Homo sapiens: one gene and its partners. The protein of the gene in region 3 purifies or fractionates together with the protein of the main gene of each other region. This does not show direct contact. Each region holds a gene or a part of one and is shown on either strand. Other genes may lie near its edges.

Region 1 (7,026 bases), on a different chromosome or scaffold from region 3:
ACTACCTGTAGTACTGTCACAGCGCGTATTTTCCAAGCCATACTGACCAGTGTTAGGGTGAGAAAAATTCTCCAAGAAACAAAGGCAGAGGGAGGGAGGAGAAGTCGCGTACTCTGTGTCTCTTTGGAACCACAGCTTGATAAAGCATTCACCGCCCACAGGCCAACCATGACAAAGTCATGTGGATTTCCCTCCTCACAAACTGGGTTCTCTCCACCTTCACCACAGCTCCTGGTACCAGGTCTACCTTCTATTTTAGTGCCCTTCTAATCCTTTTTCTACACTGTAGTCAGAATGATCATTCAAAACACATATCTGAATATATCATTGCTTTTAGGATCATAATGAAAATAGTATCATGGGCTCGGCATGGTGGCTCAAGCACTTTGGGAAGCCGAGGTGGGTGGAGAACTTGAGCCCAGGAGTTCAAGACAAGCCTGGACAAGATGGTAAGACCTCATCTCTACAAAAAATACAAAAAACTATCCAGGCATGGTGGCACGTGCCTATGGGTCCCAGCTATACAGGAGGTTGAAGTGGGAGAATCACTTGAGTCTGGGAGGCAGAGGTTGCAGTGAGCTGAGATTGTGCCACTGCACTCCAGCCTCAGTGACAGACTGAGACCCTGTCTCAAAAATAAAATTAATAAAATAAAATAAAGACAATACTAACATGGTTGCAAGGACTTGCTTACTCTGGCCCCTACCCCTTGCGTCACCCACCAACTCATGTGCACCATGCTTCCCTGCACTCTCTTCTTGTTAGCCACGCTGGTCTTCTTTCAGACCTTTCAACTACCAAGCTCTGGGACCCTTGCACAAGCTTTTCTCATTACTTAGAACATGCTCCCTGATCCTCTTCTTTAGTTAACTCTTCCCTATCCTTCAGATTCCAGCTCACTTCCTCGGGAAAGCCATGCTGATCTTCCCAACAAGGTCAAATTCTCTTGCTATAAAATGGCCTCATAGTTACCTATATGATTCCTTAACCTGGATTTATGCATGATCCTCTGATCAATGTCAGTCTCCTGCACTAGCCTGTGAGACCCATAAGGGCAAGGGCTATTTGTTTCATCAACAAAATGCATTACAAGTTTGTAATTATAATGGAGTCATACCTTTGCAGGGGGATAAAATTCTAAAGTAGTCTGTAAGCTAAATGTGTAAATGAAGAAATACCAGTGCAGATGCAGGGACATAAACTACTCTAAATATTTCCTTAAAGTGGCTTTTCTATTATTCAAAATTATAACTAGAAAATTATAGTTAGCATAGATTACTGATAGGTAAAAACATAGTGTATAGAAAAACAGACTGGAAGGAAATTCATCAAAAATGACCTCATTGGTTGAGTTTGGATGGTGGTTTTATAGGTTGTTACTTTTTTCTGCCCTTTTTGCCAAATATTCAGAAATATTATTGAATAACATATGATGTCAAAAAGTATTAAAATTTTTTCTTTTAAAAGGCTTTTACCTGGAGAACAAATACCATCTGCATCTAAGATTTCATGTCGCCAGATAGGTTTCCTTGTAGCAGCATCCAACATGGGCCCCATCACTTTATCAAAAGTCTGATTGGTGTATCGTTTCAACGTACATTTAGCATTTTTATATACAAGGCAACGCCCAAAGCCTAAAATGAAACCAAGATGGGCATTAGAACCACCAGTAACCCAAAGCTATAAGGAAATATGGATTTGTGCTACTCAACAATCCACTCCACCTCACCCTCCCCCAAATCCCAAAACTTCTCTGTATTTGATAATAATCTGGGACCAGTACAAACCAAATAAAAATCTGATAATCTGAAGAAGCAGCACAGGACTTGTCCCCTACCTACTGTCTGTGTAAACACTGGAATCTCTACAACCATTTTCTGCATGGAATACACCTTGTCATACTGGAGAACGGTGAGAGAAATCTAAGACTGGCGCTGTGATTCTTTCAGAGGACAGAGCCATAGAATATTAGAATTGGAAAGGCCCTTAGAAATCACCTGCTTAACCTATCTGTTTTACAGGCACTAGGAGTGAGGTCTAGAGAAATTAAGTGGCCAAGGTCATCCAAAAAGTTGGCAGCAGAGTTGAGAATTGTGTTGAACAGCACAAGTCCACTGACTCCTGAGCCAGGATACACATCCTTTTGGTGCATAACTTCTGCTAAACTTCCCTGGAAAGTTTTCCTTTTTAAAATTTGGCATTTAGAGCAAGTTCTAAGCCAACAAGTAAAAACAATAATTTTTCTCCAGAGAAGAGACAGAATGAAAAAAGAAATAATCAAATTATTTCAATGGGAAAAATAGTTCTCCTCTGCCCTAAAGATTGGAGTTTAATTACATTTTTAGATTGCATTTATCTAGTGGATGAGGGAAAGGCTGTGAAATCAACTAACAATCTAAACATCAAGAAAAATAAGCTGTCTAGCAATGGATCAGAAAAGAAAAGGAAGAAAAATAAGCAAAAAGGACAGAAGAAAAACCTTTGGGTGGGGCAAAAAAACTCAACCACTGAATCCCTAAAAGAAAAAATCCATGAGTTGTAGAGTTACCCAAAACAGCTGTCATTCCTTCAACACTATAATTTCCTGATTCTGTGGCTGCATTTCTTTCTTTTTTCCCTTTGGCCAAGCAGTTATTTTAAACTGGATTCTCTTACTAATCTCCTCAGGATATACTGAGCCATGCCAGAGTTCACTTAAATAAGAAATGTCTCAGGATTAAATGCCGCTTATTACTGATGAAATAAATGCATGGCAGTAAAATCCTTCACTTAACAATTTTCCACCAAAAACAGAAATCTAAGAATGTGACTTTAGAAATCAATCAGGTAAAAGTGGATTTATAAATAAAATCTCAGGGCTGTAATGTAATTTTTTAAATATGAAGGTGACTGTGAGATGAAGTAACGAATTTCTAAAATTGGACGTCAGATGAAGACATTTGTGTCTTTAAGCAAGGCCGTAGTCATCATGGCTCCTAGGAAATTGTGTATGGCCATAATAAACTCGGCTCAGAATGCCAGCTGGTTTGGAAACATTACATGATCTTGAAATTTCATACAGTAGCCATTAACTGCAACATGCTGGAGTGCAATGTGAATCTTAACTGCATGAAATCAAGAAGTGTTTTCTTCAAAGTGTAAACAGACATTTTATTTACAGGTGATAGCTTAAAAGCTAGGGGATAGTAAACTCAGATCACTGAATTGGGTTGCAGAGTTTCTGACAGACATCACAAAGTCTTCAGATTTCCACATAAACGTTACCAGTTAATCAGAAAGGAAAACATCTAGTTTTAAAGCATGGCTGTTGTCATTTGGAGGAAAAAAAGAGGCATAAATTAAGTGTGGCCAACATTAATGCCAAAGACACATGTCTAGGAGTACTATTATGGCTGCCTAGCAACTACAAAGAGGGAAGGGGAAGGCATAGTGGGTACGCCAGGAAGGAAAAAGAGAAATCGAGATTATGAATAGAGAAGTCAGACTTCAGATCAGGTGATGTCTAACAAACCACGAGGTGGTGACTTGTGAAAGTATTGTCAAAAACAGAAAGAAAAGCAGAAAAACTCCACGCCAGAGTTTGTGGCCGTGTATTTTTAACTTTCGTCACTTGGCCAAAGAAGTTACCAAATTATGAGGTTACACAAATAAGAAACAGCCTTTTACATCCAAATATTGCTACTGCCCTCTCAAACAGGTTTGTTGTTAATAATATGTATCACTAGACACAGTGAAAACACATATTTCATATACTGTAATTCCTGCTGGAAAACAAACACATTCTTACATTTTTTTTCTTTTTGAAGGATTGTCTCACGTAACCAATAAAATAATAAAGGAGAAAAATATTCTGTAGTAGTATGTTTAACAAATTATTTCAATATACTAGTCATTAAAAATGACAAGAAAGCCAACATCAAAACCCAACCACCTCCTGTTTCTATATCATAAAATTCAAATAACTTAAAACTGACATTAACCAAGTGATTTTTACATTAATCATCCCTATATCTAATTCTGCAAAAAGCAACTTTGGTGTTAGTTTTGAAAATTCACTTACCTCTGTCTAAAGAGGCCTTGTTTAAAACAAGAGCATCTTCAATATCATAGCCACTATAGCTCATCACAGCAACTGTTGCATTCTGTCCAGCTGGCAGTTTCTCAAATTCTATCAATTCAATGGTTTTTGTCTTAACCATGGGTTTTTGTGGATATGCTAGTAGATACATGAGAGTATCAATTCTGTTTCGCTGGTTGTATCCTATAGTACCTGCATTGATATGGGAGAAAACAAAATACAACATTCTATTATGTGAAATAATAAGGTAGTAATGAATATAGAGATAAATACATTAACATCACTAATTAAAATGAACAAAATCTTCAGGTTCAACATTTCAAAAGCAATACTCTCATGGTGGCTTAACAACTTGCAAAAGCAACTTTTCTCACTAATATTTAAAGTTCTACAAAGAAGGAAAAATATAAAGTATATTTTAATCTAAATAATTTAGACTTTTTGGATTTACATTATCCCATTTGAGGGATTTAGTTTCCACTGGTTAATTTCACAATCAACAATTCTTTATTTGGTTCTACCGTGTTCCAGGCCTGCTGGGGAGAGGTAATGTAAGAACAACGCCCAGTGTTCACATCCGAGGAGCTTATAAAATGGATAAACAGGTATATTCCATAAAAAGAAATAATTGCAAAAGTTCTAAATGAAAAAGAATACAGGAGAGAAGGGAAGAAAAAGAATGAACAAAGAGGAATTCAAGTGAGAGCAAGGAAGAGTGGATTATGCATTTATTTGATGATTCATGTATTAAGCAGTTAATAAACATCTACTCTGTGCCAAAAACTGGAGATAAAATGAGAAAAGGCTTGGCCCCTTCCTTAAGAAATCTAGGGTACAGCCCAATCAGGGGTGGGCTCTTCCCTCCTTAGCAATCAGTCTTTCCACCTGATTGTTCCTCGGATGGGTGTTATTGGGTCACTGTCAACTGAACATGAAATCAGAATGTTAACCCTTTCTCTCATTTCCCCTTATAAACACACTGGGGTTCATGCACCTGCCTGAAGATGAGTCTTTCAGTCTCCTCGGCTTGTGGACACAGAACTGATGCTACAAAGAGATGTTAAAGTTGGAAAACTCAGGCTTGCTCTACTGCTGAGCTTGAGTGTGGGCTACTGAGCCTCTTTAACTTCTCCTAGGTATCTCTTTTCTCCCCCTGTGAATAGCTAAGGCAGCTTTAAGTCTCTCTCTCTTGCACACGCTTCCATAGTGACACATACACACCACACACACACACTCCGAAGTACCTAAGTGCCATTTCACAGAGTTACACCCTAGGGTATGCAGACACCAAAACTCAGTATTTATTTCCTTTAACTTTTTCTCCATACTCATGTCATTAAATCAATGATGATTTCATTTTGGGGATGAAAATAAGCTATTCAGGCTGGGCGTGGTAGCTCATGCCTGTAATCCCAGCACTTTGCGAGGTCGATGTGGGTGGACTGCTTGAGCTTAGGAGTTCAAGACCAGACTGGGCAACATGACAAAACCATGTCTCTACTAAAAATGCAAAAATTAACGGGGCATGGTAGTCCCAGCTACTTGGGTGGCTGAGGCATGAGAATCGCTTGAGCCCAGGAAGTAGAGGTTGCAGTGAGCTAAGATCATACCACTACACTCCAGCCTGGGCAATAGAGCAAGACCCTGTCTCAAAAAAAAAAAAAAAAGAAGAAAAGAAAAAGAAAATAAACCATTCAAGCAGCAAAAATTACTTGACAATTACTACTGAAAGAAATAGTACATATGTAGGGAATACCTAGTGCAGTGCCATGCTTATTATAGATGCTCAATAAATGTCAAGCAAATTAAATTGAAGAATTCTATTATACTTTTTATGACAGTATGTGCTTAAATCTCTAAAAACTTAAAAAGATTCAGCTGAAAAACAAGTCAAACTGAAACTCATGAACTTTATCAAGGTTGCACTATAAATTGCCAATTGATTTATGTTATTTTAGTGCCAACTAATAAACTGGGCAGGATACCTGGCAATAGATCACTTACTGTTTTAGAAATAAGATTACTACTGCTGGGATTATGGTAAAGTTCACTGACAATAAGTTTGTCCTTTTTTATGAAATCACTTAAAATTTATGTTGAGATTTCAGTTCCAATTGTATACCTTACTCAGCTGGAGACAAGGGTTCAGGCAATGTCCCACCAGGCTGCCAAACATGTCTTCTGAAACCTGAGACACGCATTATTATGCAGCAGGGAAGCATAAATGGCTGCACCTCTAAACAATGGTGAAAGAGACTGGATCCTGCTATAAATTGTGCTACCAGGCCCAGAACATAATTCTCAGGCATTACAACTGACCACTGAATGGATGAACAGCAAAATAGTTTAGCAAATGTTTAGTGCTTATGACATCAAAAAGTTTTCTCTAAAGGCCTTTTAAAGAACTTGTGAGAGTATACATGTACGTGCATTTTTAGCAGCACTGACTATGGGTGTGTAAGTTAAAATGTTAAAATAGAATTTATAAACTATTCTATATCATAAAACTTCAAAATGCTATCAGATTCCCAAATGTTTATAAAAATAATGAATGGCTGACTAACCATTTTGCCAATAAGCAACAGGCAAGCAAATGATAGGGCTTGCCTGTGTGCAGCACACGCTCAAACTTTGATTCCCCTATTAGTATTTTCAGCTTCCTTAAAAAGGGCGTTACATATATATACACACATATAAAATAACACAAGGAGAATATCTATAAGTTGCATTCTACTTCTATTATCCCATTTTGCTGTACTATGGTCTCCAATGATTCCCTTTACTTACTAAGGCATAATCTTTCTAAAAAGCCCTATTTTCTTGATAACAACTTTCTTAAGTCACAAGCTGGCACTACAAGGTAAACAAATGTAAGTTAAAATATTGAAAAAGTGCTCTTTTATAAGGCAGCATGAAAAAGCTTGGTAAGGAAGGATGTAAACAGCTTA
Region 2 (7,026 bases), on a different chromosome or scaffold from region 3:
GAGGAAGGAGCTCCAGCTCTCTAGCTGACAGGGCACCTCAGCCTCCCTGATCCCTGGCAGGGCAGAGGCCAACAGGGCATAGCAATAGCCAAGAAAGAACAATTGCGTCTTGGGAACCTCCCAGGCCCCAGCCTCTCAGTTGTCCACTGCCCAGCTGCAGAGAAGGCAGGAGCTTGACATATCTGTGGCACTTGGCAGCCGGTGCAGATGGGGTGAGGCCTTGGGCTCTCCGCTCTACACTGCCCTCTGTCTGCACAGCAGACAGTCGAGATGCACTGAAACTGTCCAGATGCGACTCCTGATTTTCATTCCATCCTCCATCTCTGGGACTGTTACGATAGCTGTTTCCCTGAAGTTTCTCTTTCTACCCGCTCCATGTCTTCCTCTGCCCGAAATCCTTCTGTAGCTTCCTATTAAATAGCATTCCCATGGTTCATTTATTTAGACAACAAACATGTATTGAGTGCCTGCTGTGTACTAGGCACTTGGGGTACCACAAGGGACAAAATAGACCAAAATCTCTGCCTTCACATAGCTTACAGCTTAGTGGCAATAGAGATGGGCACAGATGCAGAGCTGTAAACTGTCACATGGTGATAGACACCTGCTATGGAGAAAACCAGAGCAGAGAAGGGAATTGAGGGGTGGGGGAGGCAGTTTGCAATGTGATTTGGAGAGGGAAGGTCTTAGCCACAAGGTGACATTTGAGCAAAAACCGGAAAGAGGTGAAGGGGGGACCATGAGGTTATCGGGGGGGTAGAGCAGCTACAAAGCCCCAGAAGTGGGTTTGGAGCAGAGAGGAGGGTAGGAGGCTTGTGGGAGATGAGGTCTGGCAGGTCAAGGGGCAGGAGATTGTTTAGGGTTTACATGGGATGATAAAGACTTTGGCTTTTGTCTAGGTGTGGTGGCTCATGCCTGTAATCCCAGCACTTTGGGAGGCCAACACAGGTGAATCACTTGAGGCCAGGAGTTCGAGACCAGCCTGGCCAATATGGCAAAGCCCCGTCTCTACTGAAAATACAAAAATTAGCTGAGCGGATGGTGCATGCCAATTATTGCAGCTACTTGGGAGGCTGAGGCAGGAGAATCACTTGAACCTAAGAAGCAGAGGTTGCAGTGAGTCAAAATCACGGCAGAGCACTTCAACCTGGGTGACAGAGCAAGACATGTCTTAAAAATAAATAAATATTAGATAGTTCAAATGTTAAGTAGATCAGACAAAAATCATGCTGGTCTCAGCCGGGCGCAGTGGCTCACGCCTGTAATCCCAGCACTTTGGGAAACCAAGGCGGGCAGATCACCTGAGGTCAGGAATTCAAGACTAACCTGGCCAACATGGCAAGTCCCTGTCTCTACTAAAAATAGAAAAATTAGCCGGGCCTGGTGGTGCATGCCTGTAATCCCAGCTACTTGGGAGGCTAAGGCAAGAATCGCTTGAACCCGGGAGGCAGAGGTTGCAGTGAGCCGATCGTACCACCGCACTCCAGCCTGGGTGACAGAGCAAGACTCCGTCTCAAGAAAAAAAAAAAAAAAAATTCATGCTAGTCTCACCCAAGAGCAGAGGTTTGGGAACTGCTGAGGCCTGGGGGTGCCTGAGTACCATCCTACCTATGACCACCCCTCTTCTCTTTGGGTATGTGAAGGGGCAGACCAGCTGAAATACTCAACCTGCCCCGTGGAGACCTACAGCCTTCCCTCTTCCTGGAATTTCTCCTCCCCTCTGTTGTCATGACTTGCCCAAAGCTCTCTCTTCTTCCAGGCGCACCTAACGTGCCTCCTCCCCAGCAGAAAGGCCTTTCCCGCCTCTCAACTCCCCTACCTGTACCTGTCACCTGAGGTCAGACAGCCTGGATTTGAAGTCCAGTTCATCATCCTGCTTGCTATGTGACTTTGGGTCAAAATGCACACAGTATCTCTGAGTTCCAGTCTGTTCATTATAAAACAGTGACAATCACCACACCTCATAGGGTCATTGTGTTGAATACAGGACAGAAGAGTGTGTGAAGAGGTCATTTTTAGACCAAAAACACAGAAGAGTCATCTCACTCAGGATTCGAGTTAAAGTCAGCTTGAAAATCAAATATCAGAGAGCTTTGGACTGTCTGTCTTCCTGTTCAACTTCTGGCTCCTCTTTAAAGCGTCCCCAGGGCCCTCAGTTCTCCAGTGTTTTAATCATGGCTGGGACCAGCCAACCTCTATCCTTCTGTCTGGCAGTGAATTCTCTGTGAGCAGAGAAGAAACCATTAAAGCCAGTCATTTGCCTTTCCCCGCAGGTGCAGCCCACACTTGTTGGCTTGGTCTACCCGCTTGCACCCGCTGCTTGAGTGTTTCTTTTTTTCTTTATTTCTTCTGGCTGATGGGGTATAGGGTTGGTCATCCATTGTTGACTTCAATGTAGATGTAGAAAGAAGGTCAGTTGGTTGGTTGTGGGCTCCCCCTCCCAGTGCAGGGCCTGTTGCAGAATAGGCACAAGGAAATGTTGGTTGAACGACTGATGGTCCCAGTCTCTCGCCCTCCTTTGCAGATCGAGCTGAAGGACTGCGCGGCTGGCTCTCCTCTAGTATGGCCAATGAAGAGGATGACCCAGTTGTACAGGAGGTAACTGCTGCTCTCTGTCCCCTGCCGCCGGGGCTACAGGCAGTGGAATTGGGTCCTTTCCATGTGTCCTCAGGCCAGTCTGGGACCTGTTGATGTTCTGGGACCCCTAACCCTTGCTGTTCCCTCTGCCTGGTCCCCTCTGCTGTCCCCCAGACCCCTGCGTGGCTGACCTCTCCCTTCCTTCAGGTCTCTGATCTGGCATCACCTCATCAGGGAGGCCTTCCCTGACTGCCCTTCCACACCCAGCTCCCCTCCTGCACCCTCCCGTGCCTCTCTCTGCCCTTACCTTGGCGGTAACTCATACTTGGCCTAGCCCCCGTCATCCCCTAGATATCAGTTGATTGCTTTCTTTCCCGTCCACTGCTGTGCCGCAAAGCCGAGTATAGTGCCTGGCACCCAGGTACCCGGCGACTATTTGGTGAATGAATGAATGAATAAATGGGCTCAGCAGTCCCTCCTTCCCAGGCTTACGCAGATGTAGTCATTCAGCAGCTGTTCACTGGACCACTGTGTGCTGGGGGCTGTGACACATCAGTGAGCAGGGCAGGGTCCCCTTCCCTGGGAAGCTAATGGGCTGTGGGCAAGACTGATGAGGCAGGAGTCTCCGGGTACAGGCAGTGGGAGGCAGATTTCCCTTTTTTTTTTTTTTTTTTGGAGACAGAGTCTTGCTCTGTTGCCCAGGCTGGAGTTCAGTGGTGCCATCTCGGCTCACTGCAACCTTCACCTCCCAGGTTCAAGCGATTCTCCTGCCTCAGCCTCCTGAGTAGCTGGGATCACAGGTGCCCATCACCACGCCCGACTAATTTTTTTTTTTTTTTTTTTTTTGAGGCGGAGTCTCACTCTGTCTCCCAGGCTGGAGTGCAGTAGTGTTATCTTGGCTCACCGCAGTCTCTGCCTCTGGGTTCAAACGATTCTTGTGCCTCAGCCTCCTGAGTAGCTGGGATTACGGGCGCCCGCCACTACACCTGGCTAATTTTTGTATTTTTAGTAGAGATGGGATTTCACCATGATAGCCAGGCTGGTCTCGATCTCCTGACCTCAAGTGATCACCCACCTTGGGCCTCCCAAAGTGCAGAGATTACAGGCATGAGCCACCATGGCCGGCACAGGTTTCCCTTCTTAGAGAAAGCTGTTGATAGTCAAACTCACCTTTCAGAATCCTTTTAACCCAGGACTTAGACCTTTGGAAGGCAAAAGGCAAAAAGTAACTGCATCTGCCTTCAGCCTCCTTATATGCGGAGCCTGACCTCCAGTGGGAAGGGCAGGGGCAAGGAGAAGGTCCTCGGAGATGAATAGAGGTGGTTTTTCCTTGCTTGGGGGATGTTGCTAAGTTATTAGATGTGAGTTATTTAGATGCATTTAAGCTGCATCTACACTGCAGTAGCAGGAGTTACAACAGGGGGGTTGGTGATGGGATAGAAGAGTCCAAGGGACTCCGAGGACAGAGGCAGTGCCCTCTGCAGCCAGGGGGCCTGGAATGCTTCCTGCCCAAGTTGTGCCTCAGCCAAGTCCTTGGAGGAGCGAGCAGTCAAGGCTCAGGGGAGGCATGTGTGAAGGGCTCTGTAGGTATAGGGAAAAGCATGTGCAAAGGCCCAGGGGTAGGAGAGCATGTGGTTTATAGGAGGAGTTAGGAAGCAGGAAGGTAAACTGCTGCGTGGCGGGGTGGGGGTGGTTAGTGTTGGGAAGAAAGGAAGTGGAGCCATCAGTCACAAAGGGCCTTGCAGACCCCTTAAGAAGGGGTGACAGGCTGGTCCAGGAGGGGCAGGTGGAGGGCCCAGCCAGGAGGCACAGGCCTAGGTGAGCCCTCGCCTGCCTGCCTCTCAGAAGAGCATTTGCCCAGGCTGTAGGACGTTTCCCGATCAGTGCAGCCCCAGGGAAGATGTGTGCTTACTGGGGGATTGTGAACTTGGGTGGGGGTACCAGGTGAACTCTTGCCCTGGTTCCCCTGGGAGCTTTCAGGAGGGATTCCTGAATATACCCAGTGTGCAGCCTTGGATCCGCTTGCTTTTAGCATGAGCTGAGCTATTTCCTCCTTCCCCAAACTGCTTCCCTGAGCCACTGCCCTTAACTGAAGCTGGAAGCGCTGGCATAGCCCGGGGAGGTCAGCACTGTGTCCAGTCTCCCGGTTAAGTCGTCTTCCCTTCTTCCCAGATCGATGTGTACTTGGCCAAGAGTCTGGCGGAAAAGCTGTATCTATTTCAGGTAATTATGGGACTTGAAGGTAAAGAGGGGAGAAGCAGGTGTGGGTGGGTGGTGTGGACTCAGGAACACGGGCAGGAAACGATGGGAAACCTCAGCTAGGGTTCTCGGTGTGGAGAGTGTCATGGGGTCTCTTTGCTTTCGTGGGTGGGTTAATATTGGTCTCATTTCAAAGATGGGAAAACTGAAGGAACACAGGAGAGGCAGAAGTGTGCAGCAGTTAAAGCTGGGGCTCTGGGGTCAGACCGGATTGAGATCCAACTCCATCACACCATAGCTGCGAGACCGTGGGCAAGTTTCTTAATCCTTCTGTGCCTCACTTTCCTCACTTGCAAAGTGGTGATGGTGATAATGCCTGCCTCATAGGTCCCCAGGAGGACAGGCTGAGTCCACAGTGAAGTGTTTAGGATGCCGCCTGGCAGAGAGTTGGTGCCAGTGATGATGGCCGCTGTTGTCATGGAGGCTCCAAGGGGCAGCTCCATGGCAGCGTCTGTGAGCCCTCAGTCCTGCCAGCTGCGAGGGCCCCGGGTTGCTACCTCTGCCCCCTCCCCTTGCTGCTGGGCCAGCAGCTTGTCATTGTGGCCAACATGTATTGAGCATTGACCGTATGCAGACTGTTGAAAGCATTTACCTCAGTTACCTCTTTAACCCCACAATAACCCTATGGTGGTGATTATTACATTTTATAACCGATATATTGAGATAGAATTTACACACCACACAGTTTCCCCATTTCAGTGTGTAATGCAATGGATTTTAGTCTACTCATGGGGCTGTGCAACCAGCGCCACAGTCTGTTTTGGGACAGTTTTGTCCCCCTTTAAAGGAACCCCTTGCCTATTAGCGATCAGTCTGTGCCCCCCATTCCCACCTCCAACCCCAGGCAACCATTCCCCTTATTTTCTGTTTATGGTTTTGCCTATTCCGGACTTTTCACATAGCTGGAATCATGCAGTATGTGGCCTGCTGTGATTGGCTGCTCTCACTTTGCATGATGTTTTCAGGGCTCATCCACATGGTAGCTATAGCCTGCATCAATATTTGAGCTTTTCTTTTTTTTGTTTGTTTGTTTTGAGACACAGTCTTGCTCTGTTGCCCAGGCTGGAGTGCAGTGGCTTGATTGCGGCTCACCACAACCTCTGCCTCCCAGGCTCAAGTGATTCTGCCTCAGCATCCTGAGTAGTTGGGACTACAGGCACGCGCCACAAGCCCGGCTAATTTTTGTATTTTTAGTAGAGATGGGGTTTCACTATGTTGGCCAGCCTGGTCTCGAACTCCTGACCTTGTGATCTGCCTGCCTCGGCCTCCCATAGTGCTGGGATTACAGGTGTGAGCCACCGCTCCCAGCCAATATTTGATCTTTTACTGATGAATAATGTTCCATTGTATGGGAGACCACAGTTTGTTTATCCATTCATCAGCTGATGGGTATTTGGGTTATTTCTACTTTTTGGCTATTATAAATAATGCCACTGTGGACATTCACATAGAAGTTTTTATGATGAACGTGAATTCTCATTTCTTCTAGGTATATGCCTGGTAGCAGAATTGCTGGGTCTGCGTTTAGCTTTTTGAGGCACTGCTGGGCTGCTCTGCCCCATGTTGCCTTCCCACAGTTAGAGTCAGTGTTCATATCCCATGATGCACATGAGAACGTGAGGCACAGGGAGGCCTTCACGGGCACGGAGGCCTGGGGCATGCCACAGCAGCAATGTTGTAAGCCTGTGCTGGGAGGGCCTGGCCTCCACTCCCTGGGGTTCACCCTTATGGGCCGTGGGAATGGGGCCTGTCCTGTGTGCCTGCTCACCCTGTTTCCTTGACTGGCTGCAAAGTGATGGTGGAGGTGCCAGTGACCCCCGTGTGTCCAGAGTTCCAAACCCTGAGCCACCATCGGCTCTGTTTGCCTCCTCCGTGCTCACAGCGGCCTTGGGAGGTGAGGATGCTTAGCCTCAGGGAGGCGAGGTGCCTGCCTGAGTCCACAGTTAGCAAGGGGAAGGATGAGGACTGGAAGCCAGGCCTGTGATTTCAGAACCTGCGCCCTTCAGCCTTCCCACCCCCAGTCAGGTGATCTCAGAACTGCCCCCAGCCCCAGCCCAGGAAGCAGGGAGGAGTCACGGCTTTGCTGTGTGAGTGAGCTTTTAGGAAATGACCGTCTCCTTGCGCTAGAATGTAGCTGATCTGAAAGGGCCTATTTTCCGCACTGCCATACCTCCACCAGGCTCATTCTAC
Region 3 (7,134 bases):
GCCAGCCAGGGATGCCTCACAGCAGAACCAAAGCAGGCCCTCAGTGGCCCTGCAGTCAGGGTGGCCTCTTGGAGCCCTTGGGGACCTCCCCTCTCCGGGCTCCCTGACCCACACCTGGGCTGCCAGCACTCCAGACAAGCCACTGCCCTGGGCGTCTTCAGAGCTGAGCACCCTGCTGACTCACCTTCTTACCCGCCCTGTGAGGCCCAGCCCACTGCAATGGGGGGGTCCCCATCCAGTGCTGACACAGCTCCCGTGGTCTCAGGCCCACTATATTCTACCATCTCCCTACTAGGATAAGCAGGGCCTTCCACGCACCCAGCGCTGTTCCTGGCCCCGGCCCCGGCCCCGGCCCCCACTGAACCTCAAGGATCACTTATACATGCTCACCTCAGGGTTTGTTTGCTGCTTCCTTGGTCACATGGTTCATGCCATGACCTTCAAATTTCACTCCAGTGTCACCTCAATGAGGCCTTCCCTGCCACCACTTTTTTTTTTTTTTGAGACGGAGTTTCACTCGTTGCCCAGGCTGGAGTGCAGTGGTGTGATCTCGGCTCACCGCAACCTCCGCCTCCTGGGTTCAGGCGATTCTCCTGCCTCAGCCTCCTGAGTAGCTGGGATCACAGGCATGCACCACCACGCCCGGCTAATTTTGTATTTTTAGTAGAGACGGGATTTCTCCATGTTGGTCAGACTGGTCTTGAACTCCCGACCTCAGGTGATCTGCCCACCTCGGCCTCCCAAAGTGCTGGGATGATAGGCGTGAGCCACCGCGCCCGGCCCCTGCCACCGTTTTAAACAGCAATCCTCCCAGCTCCACCATTCTCATTCCCACACCATCTAACAGACTTTCTTTTTTAAAAAACTCTACAGTAATTTTATTATTTTTGTTTTTTTTTTTGGAGACAGGATCTCGCTCTGTCACCCAGGCTGGAGTGCAGTGGCACGATCACAGCTCACTGCAGCCTAGAACCCCTGGGCTCAAGTGATCCTCCCATCTCAACCTCCCGAATAGCTGGGATTACAGGCAGACACGACTACACTCAGCTAATTTTTTTTTTTTTTTTTTTTTGTGAGATGGAGTCTCGCTCTGTTGCCCAGGCTGGAGTGCAGTGGTGCAATCTCGGCTCACTGCAAGCTCCACCTCCTGGGTTCACGCCCTTCTCCTGCCTCAGCCTCCCGAGTAGCTGGGACTATAGGTCCCCACCACCACACCCAGCTAATTTTTTTTTTTTTTTTTTTTTTTTAGTAGTCAGGGTTTCACCGTGTTAGCCAGGATGGTCTCGATCTCTTAACCTCATGATCTGCCCACATCGGCCTCCCAAAGTGCTGTGATTACAGGTGTGAGCCACCGTGCCCGGCCCACTCAGCTAATTTTTAAATTTTTTGTATGTTGCCCAGCCCTGTACTTATTTTATATGTCTGCCTCCTCCCCTCTAAAAATGCAAGCTCCAATAGGATGGGGATGGGAGGTTTTGTTCATGCCAAAGGAGTACCTGGGACAGGGCAGCTGCTGAATACATATGCTTGGTGAATGACTAAAGAGAGCTTAGCTCCTTTTATAAACCCTGAGTTGCTTGAGTCTCTCTTACATCACTGTCTGGCTGTCTTCCTACCCCTCTGGCAGCTCTGCTTATCTCGTTTGTGGGCTGCCCTCTATCTGGGAGCCCCATACTACCTAGTCCTTCATGTTTCTCAGTCTCAACTGCTAACTCTTCCATTTAAGCAGCCATGTGAGCCAGGGGCAGTGGCTCATGCCAATAACAGCTACTTAGGCTGAAGCAGGAGGATCACCGTAGACCAGGAGTTCAAGGCTCCAGTGAGTTAGGGTCACGCTACTGCACTCCAGTCTGGGTGAGAGAGGGAGTCTTTGTCTGCAAAAAACCTCCCAAGCAGCCATGAAACTCAGCTAATTCCATCTTCTTTTTTTTTTTTTTTTGAGATGGAGTCTTGCTCTGTCACCCAGGCTGGAGTGCAGTGGCAAGATCTCAGCTCACTGCAACCTCTGCCTCCGGGTTCAAGTGATTCTCCTGCCTCAGCCTCCCCAAGTAGCTGGGACTACAGGCACACGCCACCACGCCTGGCTAATTTTTGTATTTTTAGTAGAGACAGGGTTTCACCTTGCTGACCAGGCTGGTCTCAAACTCCTGACATCAGGTGATCACCCACCTCGGCCTCCCAAAGTGCTGGAATTACAGGCGTGAGCCACCCCACCCGGCCACTAATTCCATCTTCTAAGCATCTCTAGAAACATCCTTCTCCCCAACCCTATCTGCACCAACCCTTGCCACTGCAGAACTCTGTCTTAAGCAGGAGGTATCTGAGTCTGTCACTCTCCCACTCCTGTCACTCTCCTGCTGCTCTTGGGATGATGTCTTCTCACACAGGTCCTGACCCTGCCTGCTCTGCCTCTTCATGCTTGCCTCTCATCCTTCCTGAGGGTTAAGGAAGTGCAGGCTGAGGTTCCAGGGCTTCCTGGTGGAGGCTGCAACTTGTGCTGGCTGGGGCCTCAGATGGTGTAGGAGACTGACTCCAGCAGCCACTCCAAGTACTCCAAGCTACTCCAGGCTCCACCTACTCCCTCCTGGAAGCCTTCCCAGACATCCAGCAGTGGGGAAGGTGGATCCAACTTCCCCAACCAGGACTGGGGGGCCAAGGCTATTCCAAATTGTAATTGTATCCATTACAGGGCACTGACCATTCTGTCCTTCCACGGTGGCACCTCGGACTAGGACTGCCCACCGCTGAGCTTCCTGAGGGTTGAGGAAGTGCAGGCTGAGGGTTCCAGGCCCTCCTGGTGGAGGCTGTAGCTCGTGCTGGGTGGGGCCTCGGATGGTGTAGGAAACTGACTCCAGGGGCCACTCCAAATTAACCTGAGAAGAGGGAGAGTCCAGGCTCAGGGCGTCCCCCCGCCCTACATCGCACGAGGAGCAAAGAAATACAAGGTAACATTTATAGACCATTTACACGGTCCTAAGCCCTGTACGCCTATCATCAAATCCTCACAATAGCCCTGTAAAGTAGGTCCAGGTAGGTCCCAGTAGGTCCGAGCGTCACCCCCATTTCACGGACGAGAAAACAGAAGCAAAGAAACATAACTGCTTAAGGGCACCCAGGTGGCAAGCGGAGGGGCCTAACTTTGGGCTCCGTGCCCTGCCCGGGCCAAGAGGACTGACCGCGCGCCCTCCGCCCCCACTCACCGCCCCAGGTCCCGCGCCCAGCAGCTCCAGCCGGAAGCGCCCAGGCCGCTCAGGGTCCGCGCTCAGCTGCAGCCTCCGCAGCTGTGCCTCGGCGTCTGGCCCGGCGCCCAGCGGCCTCACCGCGGCGTGCACAGCCAAGAGCACTGCGGCGGAGCCCAAGTCCGAGGCCGCCGCCGCCGCCCCGCCCGCTGGCGGCGCCATCTCCGGTCCGGCCGGGTCCCACCCCTCCGAGCGCGCTTCCGTGGGATCGGGCCGCTGAGCCCCCTCCGCCGGTCGGAAACACGGGCCGCGAACCTGGGGTTCCGGGCGCGCCCAGAGCGTCGGGCCTGGGACGGCGCCGAGTGGTGCACTCTGGCCAAGCCTGCCCCGCTGGCTTTGCCCACAAATGGACACGGCCCGAGGGTCTCCGGACACCGGCTGGGCGAGGCTGGCGGCGTGTACGAGGCTGGGGCAGGGCGGCCGAGGCGCTCACGTTAGAGCTGGTCTTTGGGGGCGAAGGGTCAGGGGGCGAAGCACCGGCCACAACTGAAGGCGGACGCGGCCTCTTCGCCCCAGGGGCTCGGCGGACGTAGATGCATCCAGCGTGCGACTATCCCAGCGCCTAACGGCAGCTGGACTTCGCTCCCGGGACCTCCAATGGGCTGCCACCTTCGCCCGCAGACCCCAGCCCCCGCCACGCCCACACGTCGCACTAGGTTGGCCCGCGCCTCACTGGTTACGGGGTCGACCCCCCTAGGGGGCGGAGCTAGAGAGGCCACGGCCAATGAACGCCGGGGGTAAGCGGGTTAGTACGACGAGAAGAGTGACAGACAGGCTCCATAACCAGTAGACGTAGAAGGCAGAACTGAGTGGCGGGTACGGCACCCGATGGCTATTCGAGCTCTCGATCTCGGAGACTGGAGCGGGCCATTCAGAGGCGCGGGGCCGGGCCCGGCGGACGCTTGTTGTTGTCCGGCCGGGGGAGGCGGAGGTCGCTCGCTCGCTCGCTCGGCTCGCTGACTCGCCGGAGCGCTCTGTGGCGGTCGGCGGCAGGTCGGTCGCGAGAGCGGGCTCTGTGGAAGGGGGCGAGGCTATGTCGCGGTGGCAGCCCGGATGGGCCGGCAGGGCCGGGAGTAACGGGACGTCGCCGCGGAGCTTCTTCCCCCGGATACAGTGCGGCCCGAGCGGAGGCCGCGGCGCCGCCCTCCGATCTTGAAGAGCCCGCGCTGCGCGGAGCCCGCCCCCGCCTGCGCACCGGCACCGACGCGGAGCGACCCAGCCCAGCCAGACCCGGCCCGGCGCGGCCTGATCTAACCCAGCCAGGCAGGTGGGTGTCCGCCCTGCGTCCCGCGCCGTCTGCGTACCCGGAACCACAGCCCCCAGCAGGCCTCGCGCGGCGCGCTGCCTCCTGGGATTTGTAGTTCCACCGCGGCTTGGCTGGTGCCCGACGTGGCCCAGGCGGGCGCTGCCTGGTGACTGCAGCGCCCCAGCGGGGCCGAGGGACCGCCCTCCTAGGCGTCTGGAGAAACTAGGCAATTTTTCCGGGTAGAGTGGAGGAACCTGTAGTTTTCCTCTCCCCGGGCCAGAAAGTAGCCAAAACGAAAGAGCGCCCGCCCAGGTGACCGCAGGGCCCGGAGTCCCAGGTGTCCTGGTTCCTAACCGGGATGCAGCCTCTTACCTTGGCTGAGGAGCCCAGCCAGCCTGAGGGAGACTGCAGGAGTCACGTCCCGTTGCGGACTCAAGAGTTACCCCCATGGTGGCTGGAGCTCTTTTGGAGTGGGCGTGGAGATGGGGAATGGGAATGTTGAGCAACAATCTCAGCCAGCAGCCCCAGGGTGAGCAGGGTCCCCGGTGGTCTAGTCTAGTCCCAGAACTCGCGTGTTCTGCAGGGGGTATGGCTGACCTGGAGCCTGGACTTACCACCCTCAGGTAAAACAGGATCTCTGTCACCTCTCCTGGCCGGGCAGAGAGGGGAGCTCCTGATGTGCAGCCTGGACAGAGGCCAGACTCAGCTTGTTCCTAGCGGCTCCACTTAGTGGGTAGGAGGGCTGAAGGCAGGGCCCCAAGGGGCCAGATAGATACCCATGGTCTGGTCTCTCACTCCCCAGGCAATACTAGCCCCTCTGGAGCACGGAGCTCCTTCCCCAAAGACATGAAGCTATTGGAGAACTCGAGCTTTGAAGCCATCAACTCACAGCTGACTGTGGAGACTGGAGATGCCCACATCATTGGCAGGTGAGGCAGGCTGGGGGGGCTGGCATCTCGGAGGTCACACTGCCGCGCCCTTCAGTGGAACCTGGGGGAAGCATGCTTCATGGTTCTCTCTGCATCCTATAGGATTGAGAGCTACTCATGTAAGATGGCAGGAGACGACAAACACATGTTCAAGCAGTTCTGCCAGGAGGGCCAGCCCCACGTGCTGGAGGCACTTTCTCCACCCCAGACTTCAGGACTGAGCCCCAGCAGGTGAGCCATGGTGGGGCCTACCTGGGGCTGGGGGTTGAGGGGAGGTGATGGGCCCAGCTGATGGTTCTGTCTGTGCAGACTCAGCAAAAGCCAAGGCGGTGAGGAGGAGGGCCCCCTCAGTGACAAGTGCAGCCGCAAGACCCTCTTCTACCTGATTGCCACGCTCAATGAGTCCTTCAGGCCTGACTATGACTTCAGCACAGCCCGCAGCCATGAGTTCAGCCGGGAGCCCAGCCTTAGCTGGGTGAGGGTCAGGTGGAGGGAAGGGACCCACAGCCACCCCACTGTCCTTCCCCACTTTGGGTAGCCCTGGGCTCCTGTCACCCTGACTGTGACCTGCCCTAGGTGGTGAATGCAGTCAACTGCAGTCTGTTCTCAGCTGTGCGGGAGGACTTCAAGGATCTGAAACCACAGCTGTGGAACGCGGTGGACGAGGAGATCTGCCTGGCTGAATGTGACATCTACAGGTGGGCCGGCATCCCTGCAGATGGCCTCCAGGCCTCCAGGTTTGTGGGGCACTTGGCGCCTCACACCACCTGTCACCCTATACTCCCCAGCTATAACCCAGACTTGGACTCAGATCCCTTCGGGGAGGATGGTAGCCTCTGGTCCTTCAACTACTTCTTCTACAACAAGCGGCTCAAGCGAATCGTCTTCTTTAGCTGCCGTTCCATCAGGTGGGCACCCCCCGCCTCCTCCCCCACCTCCCTGTTGGGCCGATACAACTTCCCCAGCTGTGCCATCTCCACCCAGCTTTGCCCTCCCTGAACATCCTCCCTGGGGCCAGCAGCAGGCCTGGGTAGGGGTCCTGAAACTGGTTTCCCTGCCTCCCCTCAGTGGCTCCACCTACACACCCTCAGAGGCAGGCAACGAGCTGGACATGGAGCTGGGGGAGGAGGAGGTGGAGGAAGAAAGCAGAAGCGGGGGCAGTGGGGCCGAGGAGACCAGCACCATGGAGGAGGACAGGTGTGTGATGGGGGCCATGACCCGGGTCCTTGAAGCCTGGAGTGGGTACAACAGGGTGGGGGCCTCCTCTACTTGGTCTAAGTGGTGGCTCCTGAAGGCCCACTGTGTGCCAACCTCCGCCCAGGGTCCCAGTGATCTGTATTTGATGAGGAGGAGCCGAGGCCCCAGCTTCATCCAGCTTCAACCAATGCCTGGACCTGTCCACCTGAGAGGCCCCTGGGGCCTCCCCAGCTGCTGGCCAGACCCTGGCGCTGCCACAGTCCTGGCACTGCCCAAGGCCATACCTGCCTAGCCCTTTGGCTCCATCCTGTGGATGCCCACTCACCCCTCAGACTCCTGCTGCCCATGCTGTGGCCGGACTTGTCAGCAGGGGGCCTGGTGGGAGGAGCGACTGCCCTGCCCAAATGAACTGCCACAGCAGGGACAGCTGGACCGCAGAGTTTATTTTTGTATTTCTACTGGGCCTGCACACTCCAGCCCAAAGGGTCTGTGGCCGGAGGCCCCACGAGCAGGCCCCAGCAGT

The links. Proteins that work in one complex are often made in the same cells at the same time.
Region 1: the proteins of MAF1 (region 3) and POLR3B purify together in Homo sapiens (affinity purification with mass spectrometry; 2 studies listed by BioGRID and IntAct, with this or other methods). This does not show direct contact.
Region 2: the proteins of MAF1 (region 3) and POLR3E purify together in Homo sapiens (affinity purification with mass spectrometry; 2 studies listed by BioGRID and IntAct, with this or other methods). This does not show direct contact.

Annotation. Positions count from the first base shown.
Region 1 is NC_000012.12:106,451,746-106,458,771, reverse strand, and holds part of POLR3B (DNA-directed RNA polymerase III subunit RPC2), read right to left. Parts: intron 4,271-7,026; coding exon 4,061-4,270; intron 1,635-4,060; coding exon 1,476-1,634; intron 1-1,475. UniProt on the Homo sapiens protein: Catalytic core component of RNA polymerase III (Pol III), a DNA-dependent RNA polymerase which synthesizes small non-coding RNAs using the four ribonucleoside triphosphates as substrates.
Region 2 is NC_000016.10:22,300,407-22,307,432, forward strand, and holds part of POLR3E (DNA-directed RNA polymerase III subunit RPC5), read left to right. Parts: intron 1-2,524; 5' UTR 2,525-2,562; coding exon 2,563-2,598; intron 2,599-4,749; coding exon 4,750-4,800; intron 4,801-7,026. UniProt on the Homo sapiens protein: DNA-dependent RNA polymerase catalyzes the transcription of DNA into RNA using the four ribonucleoside triphosphates as substrates.
Region 3 is NC_000008.11:144,100,353-144,107,486, forward strand, and holds the start of MAF1 (repressor of RNA polymerase III transcription MAF1 homolog), read left to right. Parts: upstream 1-4,108; 5' UTR 4,109-4,506; intron 4,507-5,287; 5' UTR 5,288-5,331; coding exon 5,332-5,414; intron 5,415-5,516; coding exon 5,517-5,645; intron 5,646-5,723; coding exon 5,724-5,889; intron 5,890-5,990; coding exon 5,991-6,112; intron 6,113-6,202; coding exon 6,203-6,322; intron 6,323-6,482; coding exon 6,483-6,611; intron 6,612-6,735; coding exon 6,736-6,757; 3' UTR 6,758-7,134. Other genes in the region: sharpin, read right to left, coding at 2,699-2,873, 3,201-3,401. UniProt on the Homo sapiens protein: Plays a role in the repression of RNA polymerase III-mediated transcription in response to changing nutritional, environmental and cellular stress conditions to balance the production of highly abundant tRNAs, 5S rRNA, and other small non-coding RNAs with cell growth and maintenance.